Homo sapiens: one gene and its partner. The protein of the gene in region 1 interacts with the protein of each later gene in a biochemical or structural test. Each region holds a gene or a part of one and is shown on either strand. Other genes may lie near its edges.

Region 1 (7,022 bases):
GCACCTGTGGCGGGCCGCGTCACCCACTCGGGACCCCGGAGACCAAGTCCGCTCTTCTGCACGTAAACCCTGCCTCCTCTGAGACCCAGCCCCATCCCCATCCCCTAGGCCCAGGAGACCCTGCCCTGCTCTCCAGACCCAGGCCCCTCCCACGGAGACCCAGTCCGGCCTTCCAGGCTCCTAGTTTTTGTGGGGTTTTTTGTTTTTTTTTTGAGACAGGGTTTCGCTCTTGTTGCCCAGGCTGGAGTGCAATGGCGCTATCTCGGCTCACCGCAACCTCCGCCTCCCGGGTTCAAGCGATTCCCCTTCCTCACAGGCCCGGCTAATTTTTGTATTTTTAGTAGAGACGGGATTTCTCCATGTTGGTCAGGCTGGTCTCAAACTCCCTACCTCAGGTGATCCGCCCGCCTCGGCTTCCCAAGGTGCTGGGATTACAGGCGTGAGCCACTGCATCTGGCCGGGTTTTTTGGTTTTTTTTTTCTTTAGAGATGGGGTCTCGCTATGTTGCCCAGGATGGGTCTCGAACTGGGTAAAAGCAATCCTCCCGCCTCGACCTCCCAAAACGCTGAGATGACAGGCGCGAGCCACCGCGGCCAGCCAGGCTCTTAATTCTGGCCCCGGAGATGCAGCTCCAACCCCTAGGGAGACCCAGCCCTGCCTCGTAGGCACCTAGAGCCTCCCCTGGAGATCCTGTCCCGCCCTCCAAACACCTAGACCTTACCCTGGAGGCCCTGCCCGCCTCCCTGATCACCAAGAACCGCCCACAAAGACGATGCTCCGCCCCCCATCCAGGCCCCGCCTCTAGGGTCCCGGTTACCCTCTCCGACAAATAACTCCTCCCCGGAGACGAAGCATCACCTTCTAGACACCTAGACTGACCACCCCCAGACCCTGTCCCTACTCCTCAGGCCTAGGCCCCGCCACTGAAGACCTTACCAGTCCTCTAGGCCCCTAGACCCGCTCCTGGAGATCCTGCCCTGCCTCCCCAGCATGGGCCATAACTCCCCCTCCCCCTCCCCCACCCCCAGCCCCAAGGCAGTCCTCATGCAAAATCCAAGACCCAACTCCAGGGGACCCAACTCACCGCCCACCCTCAGCCACACAACCACCTCCCGTCCCCATCCTGCAGCCCCTCGGGACAGGCGGGACACTCACGAGGGTGTCTCCAGTGCACGGCGCGCCTCCTCTTTGGCCAAGACTTCAGACATCATGTATAGGTGCCCAGGAAGCAGGGTCAAGTCGGTCGGGACACGGAGCTGAGGGGCGATCGAGGGACAGTGACTGCACCTGGCCAGCCGGGAATGGACGGCTGTGCCCAAGTCACAGAGTGGCAAATTGAGGCCAGAGCTCAGAGCAATGAACTCTGACACCTTAGAGGGCAAAGAGGGCTTCGAGAGGGTTGCAGAGGAGTGTTGCATGAGAGTAGATGCTGGGGCCGGGCGCGGTGGCTCACGCCTGTAATCCCAGCACTTTGGGAGGCCGAGGCGGGCGGATCACCTAAGGTCAGGAGTTCGAGACCAACCTGGGCAACATGGCGAAACCCCGTTTGTACTAAAAATACAAAAAATTAGCCGGGCGTGGTGGCAGACACCTGTAATCCCAGCTACTCGGGAGGCTGGGGCAGGAGAATCACTTGAACCTGGGAAGGCGGAGGCTGCAGTAAGCCAAGATCACGCCATTGCACTCCAGCCTGGGTGACAGAGTGAGACTCCGTTCCCCGCTCCCCAACCCCACCAAAAAAAAAAAAAAAAGTAGATGCTGGAATCTAGGGTCTCAAACTAAAGTCTGCAGGGGCCAGGCAGGTCTCAAACTCAATGGCCTGCCAGGGTGAGGTAGGAAACAGGGAAATCAGAGGGAAATCAGGAAGGTAGACTAAAATTCCCGGTTGATAAATGATGTCAGCTAATTTTTTTTTTTTTTTTTTTTTTGAGATGGAGTTTAGTTCTGTCACCAAGCTGGAGTGCAGTGGCGCGATCTTGGCTCACTGCAACCTCCGACTCCCGGGTTCAAGCCATTCTCCTGCCTCAGCCTCCCGAGTAGCTGGAATTACAGGCTCCCGCCACCACGCCCAGCTGATTTTTGTATTTTTAGTAGAGACAGGGTTTCACCGTGTTGGCCAGGATGGTCTTGATCTCCTGACCTCATGATCTGCCAGCCTCGGCCTCCCAAAGTGCTGGGATTACAGGCGTGAGCCACCACGCCTGGCCAATGTCAGCTAATTTTTAAAAACTTAGCACTCTGTGGCCAGGCATGGTGGCTCACATCTATAATCCTATCACTTTGGGAGGCCAAGGAGGGTGGATTGCTTGAGCACGGAAGTTGGAGACCAGCCCGGGCAACATAGTGAGACCCTGCTCTACAAAAAAATTTTTAAATTAGTCAGATGTGGTAGTGTGTGTCTGTATCCCAGCTACTTGGGAGGCTGAGGCAGGAGGACTGCTTGAGCCTGGGAGTTGGAGGCTGCAGTGAGCTATGATCACACCACTGCACTCCAGCCTGGGCAACAGAGAGAGACCTTGTCTCAAAAAAATAAAATAAGAAATACGGTTGGTCGCTGTGGCTCACGCCTGTAATCCCAGCACTTTGAGTGGCCAAGGCGGGCAGATGACTCAAGGTCAGTTCAAGACCAGCCTGGCCAACAGGGTGAAACCCCATGTATACTAAAAATACAAAAATTAGCCAGGCGTGGTGGCGGACGCCTGTAATCCCAGCTACTCGGGAGGCTGAGTCACAAGAATTGCTTGAACCGGGGAGGCAGAGGTTGCAGTGAGCTGAGAACGTGCCATTGCACTCCAGCCTGGGCAACAGAGTGAGACTCTGTCTCAAAAAAATAAAACAAAATTTTGGCCGGGCCCGGTGGCTCACGCCTGTAATCCCAGCACTTTGGGAGGCTGAGGCGGGTGGATCACGAGTTCAGGAGACAGAGACCATCCTGGCTAACACAGTGAAACCCCGTCTCTACTAAAATACAAAAAAATTAGCCGGGCGTGGTGGCGGGCTTCTGTAATCCCAGCTACTCCGGAGGCTGAGGCACGAGAATGGCGTGAACCCGGGAGGCGGAGCTTGCAGTGAGCCGAGATCGCACCACTGCACTCCAGCCTGGGCGACAGAGCGAGACTCCGTCTCAAAAAAAGAAAAAAAGAAAGAAAGAAAAAGGAGGCTTTTTGAGGAGATCTGGAGAATGGGAGAGAGGGCGCAGAGAGCCACTACTCTTACCTCCACCACCGTTAAGATGAAGCCTTTCCACATTTCCCGACACTCCAAGGTCTCTACCTGGGGAACAAAAGAAAGGAAAGAATCCAAGTCAGTGAGCCTCAGTCTACTCATCAATGAAATTGGACTAGGGAAGAGTCCCTGCTTCAAAGGGCCGTTTTCTTTTTTCTTTTTCTTCTTTTTTTTTTTTTTTTTTTTTTTTTTGAGATGGAGTCTCATTCTTCTGTCGCCCAGGCTAGAGTACAGTGGCGCGATCTCAGCTCACTGCAACCTCCACCTCCCAGGTTCAAGCGATTCTCCTGCCTCAGCCTCCTGAGTAGCTGGGACTACAGGCATGCACCACCTCGCCCAGCTTTTTTTTTTTTCTCTTAGACATGAGGGTCTCGCTTTGTTGCCAGGCTGGTCTTGAACTCCTGGGCCCAAGCTATCCTTCTGCCTTGGCGTCCCAAAGTGCTCAGATTACAGGCATGAGCCACCATGCCTGGCTGATATTATGATTTTTGATGTTATTATATCAACATTTGAAAAACATAGATCAGGCTGGATGCAGTGGCTCACTCACGCCTGTAATCCCAGCACTTTGGGAGGTCGAGGCGGGAGGATCACTTGAGCCTAGGGGTTCAAGACCAGACTGGGTAACATAGCGAGCCCCCTGTCTCTACAAAAAAATAAAATATTAGCCAGGCATAGTGGCATGTGCTTGGCTGAGGTAGGAGGATCGATCGCTTGAGCCCGGGAGGTCGAGGCTGCAGTGAGCTATGATCTCACTACTGCACTCCAGCCTGGGCGACGAGCAAGACCCTGTCTCAAAATAAAATAATAAATAAAATAAAATAATAGAAAAACATAGATCAGTTCCCAGACCTCTCATGCTCTAAACCCTCCCATAGGCCAGCCACCGTGACTCATGCCTGTAATCCCAGCACTTTGGGAGGCCGAGGTGGGTGGATCACTTGAGGTCAGGAGTTCGAGACCAGCCTGGCCAACATGGTGAAACCCTGTCTCTACCAAAAATACAAAAATTAGCTGTGCGTGGTGGCACACGCCTGTAATCCCAGCTACTCGGGAGGCTGAGGCAGGAGAATCACTTAAACCTGGGAGGCAGAGGTTGTAGTGAGCCAAGATTGCACTACTGCACTCCAGCCTGGGTGATAAGAGCGAAACTCAAAAAATAAAAATAAAAAATAAACCCTCGGCTGGACACGGTGGCTCACGCCTATAATTCCAGCAGTTTGGGAAGCCGAGGTGGGTGGATCACCTGAGGTGAGGAGTTCCAGGCCAGCATGGCCAACATGGTGAAACCCCATCTCTACTAAAGATTCAAAAAATTAGCCAGGAGTGGTTGCGTGCGCCTGTAATCCCAGCTACTTGGGAGGCTGAGGCAGGAGAATCACTTGAACCTGGGAGGTGGAGGTTGCAGTGAGCCAAGATCGTGCCATTGCACTCCAGCCTGGGTGACAGGGCGAGACTTGGTCTCAAAAAAAAAGTAATAAAATAAAATAAAATAAACCCTCCCATAGCACCCAGCTCCTTTGGGGTCAAGACCCAAGTCTTACCCAGGGCCCACAGGGCCCTGTACTACCTGCCCCTTCGTGGTTGGCACAATGGAGGGTAGGAGCATTTGAGCATCTTCTGCAAGCACCGCCCCTCTGCACCCCTCCAGCAAGGGACCTACCTTGAACTTGATCTCCTGATCCCGGAGAATCAGGCTGAAGTGGGTGCCAGGGTCACGTGAGCTTCCCCAGGGAATCTCATCTGTGAGTTTCTCAAATGCTCCCAAGTTGAGCTTCTCCACGTGCTGGGGGCATAGAAGCAGGGGATCTGGGCACCAGTTCCTTGGCCTCCAGGCCCCCTGGATGATGTAGCAGCCACCTTGACCACACCATCTACATTGTCTGCTTGGTCTCTGGGCTCAAGGGAAGGCCTGCTCTGGAGCCTCCATTCCCATCCTTACCTGGAAGTCCCGATTGCTATTGTAGAAATAAATGGTGAGACCCTGCAGGCCTGCCCAGAACTTCTTGTAATCCTAGGGACCAGAAGTGCAGAAAGAAGAGGTGAGCTGGCCAAGCTGAGTGCCTTTCATGTACTCAATCCTGTCTCGGGGCCTTTGCACTGGTTGTGCTCTCTGCCCCACGCTGCCCCCAGATCTTTATTACCTCCTGCCTTGAGTTTCTGATCAAATGTACCTTCTCAGGGAGATCCTCCCCACCCATGGCCCAGCTTCTGGGTGTCTGTTTTCGTCTGAGAAAGGACCAGACGGAACCTCGATGTGATGAGGGATTCAGAGCAACCCCCGCCAATCTATAGAGATGGGTGCTCTAGGGGTAAGTTAACTAACTGGTTTAATGGTATCCCATTCATCTTTCATCATCCAGCTACCCACTAGCCATCTATCTATCATCCATCTGTCCATCCGCCCACCCACCCATTCATCCATCCACCTACCATTGACCCATCCATTCACCCATTCATCCATCCATCCATCTGCCCACCATCCATCCACCAATCCGTCCACCCACCCACCCATCCACACATCCATCCATCCAGTTATTCATCCACCCACCCACCCATTCATCCATCCACCTACCATTTACCCATCCATTCATCCATTCATCTATCCATCCACCCACTCATCCATCCGTCCATCACCCCCATCCATCCATCTATCCATCATGGAGCCATTCATCATCCATCCATCCAGTCATTCATCAATACCTACATCACCCACCATCCATCCAGTCATCCATCCACCCACACATCCATCTGTCCACCCATCCATCCATCCCTCCATCATCCATCCACTCATCCATCCACCCACTCATCCATCCATCCACTCATCTATCAATGCATCCCTCCATCCATCCACCTACTCATCCATCCATCCACCCATCCATCCATCCCTCCATAATCCATCCATCCATCCACTCACCGTCCATCATCCATCCACCCACTCATCCATCCACCCACTCATCCATCCACCCACTCATCAATCCATCCACCCATCCATCCACCTATCCATCCATCCCTCCATCATCCACCCACCATCTATCATCCATCCACCCACTCATCCATCCACCCACTCATCCATCCATCCATCCATACATCCATCCACTCATCTATCAATGCATCCCTCCATCATCCATCCACCTACTCATCCATCCATCCCTCATCCATCCATCATCCATCCATCCACTCATCCCTCCATCATCCATCCACCTACTCATCCATCCATCATCCATCCATGCATTCATCCATTCACCATCCACCCACCCACGCATCTTCCCGTTCATCCATCCATACATCCCTCCATCGTGCATCCACCTATTCATCCATCTATCATTCATCCATGCACTTGTTCATCCATCCATCATCCACCCACCCACCCGTCTGCCCACTCATCCATCCATCCACTCCCCCATCCATCCATCCACCCACTTGTATATGCACTCATCCATCCACCCACACATCCTCTCAGCCACCATCAAGCCCGCATGTATTCACCAAGCCTCCACTCATCCCCCCATCTACCCATCCACCTGTCCATCCGTAGACACAAGCACAGATACACACATGCATTTACCTAACATTTACTGAAGGCTTTTTATGTGCCAGCCCTGCTCCAGGCACTGGGACTAGAGCAATACAGGATTAAACACTGTATTGCTTCATTATGTACCCACGATGTGCTGTTGGGCAAGTTATTTGAGCTGTCTTTGTCTGTTTCCCCAGCTGTAAAATGGTGATAATAATGGTGCCAACTCTGGAGGATCTCATGAGAATTAGGTGACTTTCCACATGGGAAGCACCAG
Region 2 (7,489 bases), on another chromosome or scaffold:
CATCATTGGTCTGTTGGGCTGAAAACTTAGGTTTCCAGCCTCCCCATCTCTTCTTTCTCTTGGGACTGGACCCTGGAAAACCATCTGGCCCCCCTCCCACACACCATGCCCCTGTGAAGGGAAAATAAAAACTTGGGACCCTAATTCACTCTGCCAAAAGGAAAAATCAAGCTGGAAACTGAGTCATGCAAGAAGCTGCCTTGCCTTTTATTCCTAAGCAGATAGCGACAGATAAAAGGTAAAATATCCCACAGGCAGCTCCTCTATGTTCACTTTCCCTATGTAAAGAGCCAATTTACTGAACCGAGATAATTGACTGTTCCCCTACCTGCTGCTTTTCTTTTGCAACATGTGGATTACCACAACCTCCCCTTTTCCCCTCCAGCCCACTTTCCCCTTTAAATATTAAAGCCCTCGAATTCATCCAGAATGGCACAGACCACAGAATGTTTTTGTGACTCCATGTTTTTTTCTCGCCAGCATGTCCTTAACCTTGGCAAAATAAACTTCTAAATTGATTGAAGCCAGGCACAGTGGCTCATGCCTGTAATCCCAGCACTTTGGGACGCCAAGGCAGGGGGATCGCTTGAGTTCAGGAGTTCGAGACCAGCATGGCCAGCATGATAAAACCCTGTCTCTACCAAAAATAAAAAAATTAGCTGGGTGTGGTGGCAGGCACCAGTAATCACAGCTACTCAGGAGTGGCAGAATTGCTTGAACCCCGGAGGCGGAGGTTGCAGTGAGCCGAGATCCATGCCATTGCACTCCAGCCTGGGCAACAGAGCAAGACTCGGTCTCAAAAAGATAGAAAAAAGAAAGAAAGAAAGAAAGAAAGAAAGAAAGAAAGAAAGAAAGAAAGAAGGAAGGAAGGAAGGAAGGAAGGAAGGAAGGAAGGAAGGAAGGAAGGAAGGAAGGAAGGAAGGAAGAAAGAAAGGAAGGAGATGGAGTCTTGCTCTGTCGCCTAGGCTGGAGTGCAGTGGCATGATCTCAGCTCACTGCAACCTCTGCCTCCCGGGTTCAAGTGATTCTCCCACCTCAGCCTCCTGAGTAGCTGGAACTACAGGAACCCACCACCACACCCGGCTAATTTTTGTATTTTTTAGTAGAGAGGGGGCTTCACCATATTGGCGAGGCTGGTCTGAAACTCCTGATCTTGTGATCCACCCGCCTCGGCCTCCCAGAGTGCTGGGATTACAGGTGTGAGCCACCATGCCTGGCCACAAGACTCCATCTCAATAAAAAAAATAAAATTAAATTGAGACCTGGCTCAGATACTTTTCCGTTTTTGCCCCACAGGCAGGTTGTGGGTGTAAGGATAGGACAAGGCAGTGAAATCAAACCTGTGGGACTCTCTGAGATGAAGGGGGTGGCGGGTACACTGTGTGTGCATTTGTCAGACCTCATTGAACTTAAGAACCTGTGCTTTCTACTGCATGTAAGTTACATTGCAAAATAAGAAGTCCAGGCCGGGCGCCGTGACTCACACCAGTAATCCCAACACTTTGGGAGGCCAAGGCAGGTGGATCACCTGAGGTCAGGAGTTCGAGACCAGCTTGGCCAACATGGTGAAATCCCATCTCTACTAAAAATACAAAAATTAGCCAGTCATGATGGTGTATGCCTGTAATCCCAGCTTGGGAGGCTGAGACAGGAGAAACACTTGAACCCGGGAGGTGGAGGTTGCAGTGAGCCGAGATTGTGCCACTGTACTCCAGCCTGGTGACAGAGAGAGACTCTGTCTCAGGAAAAAAAAAAAAAAAACCCAAATACTCAAGCTCAGTGTGATTGCCTGGGCCAGAGAAGGATGGTCAGTGGGCCATCTCCTCCTCATCAGGGACCAGAAGCGCCACGGCCTTAGGGTCCTTCTGTGAAGAGGCCAGTATGAGGCTGTCCTTTCTCCCCTTCAATCCCCATCCTCCCCCAAGGTCCCTTTGAATAAGCAGGCAATAGAAATGTGTTTGTTGGGCCAACAAGCCAAGCACAGCAGCCCCTCACCTCTAGTCATGTTCCCTCCCAGATGGAAATTCTGCAGAACTGCTACAGCCTGGGGACCTCCTGAGACTTGGCAGCCTGTGTCTGGGAGGGCTCTGGTCCAGGAGACCCTCACTGGCCTCTTCCCAATCCCTCCTCTAGCCCTATACCTATTTCACCCCGAATTCCCCTCTCCTGAGCCCTGGGCCAGAGAGGCCAACCTCTTGTCTCTCCCCTCTGACCCCTTACACAAGCCACCCAAGGAAGAACCACCACCCCTATCAGGCCCTTCCAAATCAGATCTTGCATAGAATCATCGAATCACAGGCTGGCAGAGCTGCCAGAGCCATCAGGAGCTCTCCAGGTCCTCCCAACTCAGTGTAGGTCTGGACCAGCAGTGCCGGCATCTCACATCTCCCAGGAGTGTGTTGGATATACAGAATCTCAGGTCGCACCTGAGACCGACTGAGTCTGAATCTGCATTGTAACAAAATCCTCAGGTAACTTGTATGCACAGGAAAGTATGAAAAGCACTGCTCTGGTCTAGTCTATCACTGTCCCCCTGCCCCCAACACCTGCAATTGAATAGAAGTGGACACTGAAGCCTCAAGAGTATCAGAGGCTTGCTCAGGACACACAGTGAGTCGCTGGCAGAGCTGGGACAGATCCACAGCACCAGGTGGACCAGTTCCACCACACCCATCTCTTTTCACCCCACTACCTCTCCAAAGCAGATACCCACAAGCCTGCAGTCCAGTGTTGGGGAGACTAAAACAGCCTGAGGACACCCAGTGAGGGGCAAGGACTGAATCCTTTCACAGGGGTCTTCTCCATCACACCCCAACAAAGTCCCCCACCCCCCGTTCTGCTCTTACCATGCCAAGCTGTGGCCACCAGCAGGAGCAGCAGAACTCCTGGGCCCATGGCCTCGGTGGGGAAGTGGCAGGCAGGTGCAGGGCTGCAAGGTGCCCAGGGCACAGAGCTCTCAGCTACTAGCTCCGCAGGGATCGGGACACTGGACACACGTTCCTCTCCTCTGCACTGGCTGTTTGTCTTGTTTTCCTCTTCCTCCTCCTTGGGCTGATCCTCTTCTTCCCCTTTTAGCTAGGCAAGGCAACCACAGAGTTTGGAAATCTTGGGTCTTTAAGAAGAAAACAAAGCCTTGAACCCAAGAGGGAGGGGTCGCAGTCTGGGGCAGGGCCAGCCTGAGCTTGGGGGGAGCTAGCTAAGTTTGGGGCCCTTCTAAAGCCATCTTCAAGGGGTCTTGGGAGAAGAGACATGTCCAAGAGCAGCCAGACCGTTAGTCAGTAGCACAAATGAGGGTCTTCAGAGTGATCAGGTGGCTCTGGCAGATCCCAAAGAGAAGTTAGGTTGCATGATATTGTGACATATATATTTTTTCTTTACCCTGATGTCCTGGCTTACAACTCCTAAAATCCTTGGAATCTCCAAAGTAATGCATATCTTTTAAAAATTTATTATTATTATTTTAGAGACGCAGTTTCACTCTGTTGCCCAGGCTGGAGCTCTGTGGCTCGATCATAGCTCACTGCAGCCTCAAACTCCTGGCTCAAGCCTTCAAGCTGTGAGATCTGACGTTATCTCTAGGTAAATATAGTGTTCAAATTGAATCGGAGGGCACCAGATTCGTGTCTGCTGCAGAATCTGAACAATTGGTTGATTGCTTGGTGTATGGGGAAATATGCCCCATCCTCTACATCTGGGGTCAGAAGTATTTTGTGTTGTGAGACTATAGGAGAAACGGAGTTTGTTTTCTTCCTGTATACAGGTTGGTCTGGGAGAGCCTGATAATATTGGCAATAAGCTTCCTTTTACAGGACATTTACTAGCCAAACCTTTTACATTCACTGTCTCCTTTAGTACTGCAAAACTTTATGTAGGTAAGTACTATTGTCATTCTCATTTCACAGATGGGAAAACTAAAGCTCAGAGAGATCAAATGCCTTAAGCTTGTCCATAGTCAAACAGCTACCAAATGGTGGAGATAGGATTTGGATCCCAGCAGTCTGGTTATAAAACTATCTTTTGTGCGTTACTTACATTGTTTATTTATTTTTACAAAGAATCTAATTGTTCTGCATAATTCTTAAAATATATAGCATTCCTTTGCTCCCTCTTTTCCTGGAGGCAATTGCTTTTACCTCTTTTAGTTGATTCGCTTAGTATTTTACTTCTTATCTCTAAAGAACATGGTCATTTCTTCTTCTTTTTTTCTTTTTTTTTTTCTGAGACAGGGTTTGGTTCTGTCACCCAGGCTGGAGTGCAGTAGTGTGATCTCGGCTCACTGCAACCTCCACCTCCCGGACTCAAGCCATCCTCCTACCTCATCCTCCTGAGTAGTTGGGACTACAGGGGCATGTGCCACCATTCCTAGCAAATTTCTGTATTTTTGGTAGACATGGGGTTTCACCATGTTGTCCAGGCTGGTCTCAAACCCCTGAGCTCAAGTGATTCGCATACCTTGGCTTCCCAAAGTACTGGGATTATAGGTATGAGCCACTATACCCAGCCTAAAGTTCCTTCTTGAAATTGAAAAATCCTGATATAACATTGATCCAGGAAAATGATCATTCCCGTGTACTCAGGTGTGTGTGTGGTGTGTATGTGTGTGTTTGTATGTATATTTATGAGTGTATATATGTACTTTCTTTTTCAGAAAAGTGTTTTGAACCTTTAGCAATCATGAATGTCAATCAAAGCTGACTCAAGAAGAAAAAGAAAATCCAAATAAACCTATAACAAGAAAAGAAATTTAATCAGTAATCAAAAACCTCCCGACAAAGCAAAGCCCAGGACCAGATGGCTTCACTGGTGAATTCTCCCAAACATTTAAAGAAGAATTAATACCAATCCTTTTCAACTCATTCTATGAAGCCAGCATTTTTCTGGTACCAAAGCTAGACCAAGACATTGCCAGAAAAGATAACTACAGACCAATACAAATGCATGAATATAGAAAGCAAAAATTTTCAAAAATGTACTAGCAAACCAAATCTTTTTTTTTTTTTCTTTCTTTCTTTCTTTTTTGAGACAGGGTCTCACTCTGTCACTCAGGCTGGAGTGCAGTGGAGCAATCTCGGCTCACTGCAACCTCTGCCTCCCGCGTTCAAGCTATTCTCGTGCCTCAAACTCCCGAGTAGCTGGGATTACAGGCATGCGCCACCATGCCCAGCTAATTTTTGTATTTTTAGTAGAGACAGGGTTTCACCATGTTGGCCAGGCTAGTCTTGAACTCCTGACCTCAAGCAGTCTGCCCATCTTGGCCTCCCAAAGTGTTGGGATTACAGGCGTGAGCCACTGCACCCAGCCACCAGCAAACCAAATCTAACAGCATATTAAAATGATTATATACCATGATGAAGTGGGATTTGTCCAAGAAATACAACAGTGGTTTAACACATGAAAATCAGGGTAATACATCACATTAATAGAATGAAAAAAATCCTCATATGATCATGTCACTTGATGTAACTGTAAAACCCAACATGCTTTCATTAAAAACAAAACAAAACAAAACCCACCCAACAAACTAGCAATAAAAGGGAACAGCCTCAACGTGATTAAGGGCACATGTGAAAAAGCACAACTAATTCAATGGTAAAAGACTGAGAGCTGGTCCCTTTACATCAGGAACAAGACAAAGATGCCTGTTCTCGCCACTTCTGTTCAACATAGTACTGGAAGTCCTAGCCAGAGCAATCAGGAAGAAAAAGAAACAGAAGGCATCCAAATTAAAAAAGAAGAAGTAAAACTATCTCTGTTCACAGATGACATGATCCTATATATAGATAAATCCTAAAAGATCTACAAAAAGCAACTATTAGAGTTAATATACAAATTCAGCAAACCTGCAGGATACAAGATCAACATACGTAACTCTATAGTACTGATAATACTCCAATAAGGAAATTAAGAAAACAATTTAATTTGCAATAGTATCAAAAATAAAATATTTTGGAATAAACTAAGGAGATGCATGACTTTACAATGAAAACTACAAAACACTGTTGAAAGAAATTTAGAAGACCTTAATAAATGAAAAACCACCTTGTTTTCATAAGTTGGAGGATTTAATAAGACAGCGGTACTCTCAAAGTGAGACTGATTTATAGGGTCAATATAATCCCTATCAAAATCCCAACAGCCTTTTTCTGCAGAAATGGAAAAGCTGATTCTCAAATTCATATGGAATCTCGAGGGACATTGAATATGCAAAACAATCTTGGAGGAGTCACACTTTTCAATTTCAAAACCTACTATAAAACTACAGAAATCAAAATAGTGTGGTATCAGCATAAGAATAACTATATGGATCAATAGAATAAAATTGAGAGTCAGGAAGTAAACTCTCACATTCATGGACAACTGATATTCAACAAGGGTGGCAGGACCATCCAATGGAGAATGACCAGTTTTTTCAACATAGGTGCTAAAAGAACTAGATAGTCACATGCAGAAGAATGAAGTTGAATCCTTATTTTACATCACATATAAAAATTAACTCAAAATGAATTAAAGACCTAAATATAAAAGCTAAAATTATTAAAACCTTAAAAGAAACCATAAAGGTAATATTCATGACCTTGGAATTGGAAATGATTTCTCAGATATGTTTCTAAAAGCACAAGCAACCAAAGAAAAATTGGACATAATAAAAATTAAACATTTTTGTGCATCAAAGGACACTGTCAAGAGAATAAAAACACACAGAATGAATATTTATATCCACAATAAATAAATATATCCAGAATATATACAGAATGAAAGTTGTAGTGTTTCCTCAGCAAAAATCACTCTTGGTGCATAGTTCTATGAGTTTTGACAAATATATATAACAATGTAACCACCACTGTAGTCAAGATATAGAACAGCTCCATCACTCTAGAAAATGTTTCTCATGCTGCTCCTTTATAGTAAAGCCCTCCCCAAACCCCTTACACCAAACAACCACGGATCTGTTCTCCATCCCTGCAGTTTTGCCTTTTCCACAATGTCTTTGTGCTTTACAGGATAATGTCATATAAATGGAATCATACAGTGTGTAGCTAAAGAATGTATGTAGAATCACGCAATATGTAGCTAAAGCCACTCTATTGTCCCTCACAATTAATAAATATTTATGGGAAAATAAATTTTAAAAAAGAATGAAAGTTGTAGTGTTGCCTACAACAACAAAAAAACAATTAAATTTAAAAATAGGCAAATTCAAATATTGCATGTCCTCACTTATAAGTGGAAGCCAAACAAAGGGTCCACACGGATATAAAGATGGAAAGAATAGACTCCAAAAGTGGAAGGATAGAAGGAAAGGGGAAAGGGCAAAAAGGAAGTGAAAAATTACCTATTGGGTACAGTGTTCAGTATTTGGGTACTGGGTACACTGGAAGCCAAATTCACCATTATGCAATGTACCCATGTAATAAACATGCACATCTACTCCCGAGTCTAAAATAATTTTTTTAAAAAACAGGCAAAACATTGAATAGATATTTCTCCA

Evidence for each region. The genes of interacting proteins can lie anywhere in the genome.
Region 2: the proteins of STAP2 (region 1) and CSF1R form a complex in vitro, tested with the Homo sapiens proteins (one study listed by BioGRID).

The regions. Positions count from the first base shown.
Region 1 is NC_000019.10:4,328,806-4,335,827, forward strand, and holds part of STAP2 (signal-transducing adaptor protein 2), read right to left. Parts: intron 5,240-7,022; coding exon 5,168-5,239; intron 5,012-5,167; coding exon 4,889-5,011; intron 3,274-4,888; coding exon 3,217-3,273; intron 1,257-3,216; coding exon 1,156-1,256; intron 5-1,155; coding exon 1-4. UniProt on the Homo sapiens protein: Substrate of protein kinase PTK6. May play a regulatory role in the acute-phase response in systemic inflammation and may modulate STAT3 activity.
Region 2 is NC_000005.10:150,083,533-150,091,021, forward strand, and holds the start of CSF1R (macrophage colony-stimulating factor 1 receptor isoform a precursor), read right to left. Parts: upstream 3,023-7,489; 5' UTR 2,896-3,022; coding exon 2,847-2,895; intron 1-2,846. UniProt on the Homo sapiens protein: Tyrosine-protein kinase that acts as a cell-surface receptor for CSF1 and IL34 and plays an essential role in the regulation of survival, proliferation and differentiation of hematopoietic precursor cells, especially mononuclear phagocytes, such as macrophages and monocytes.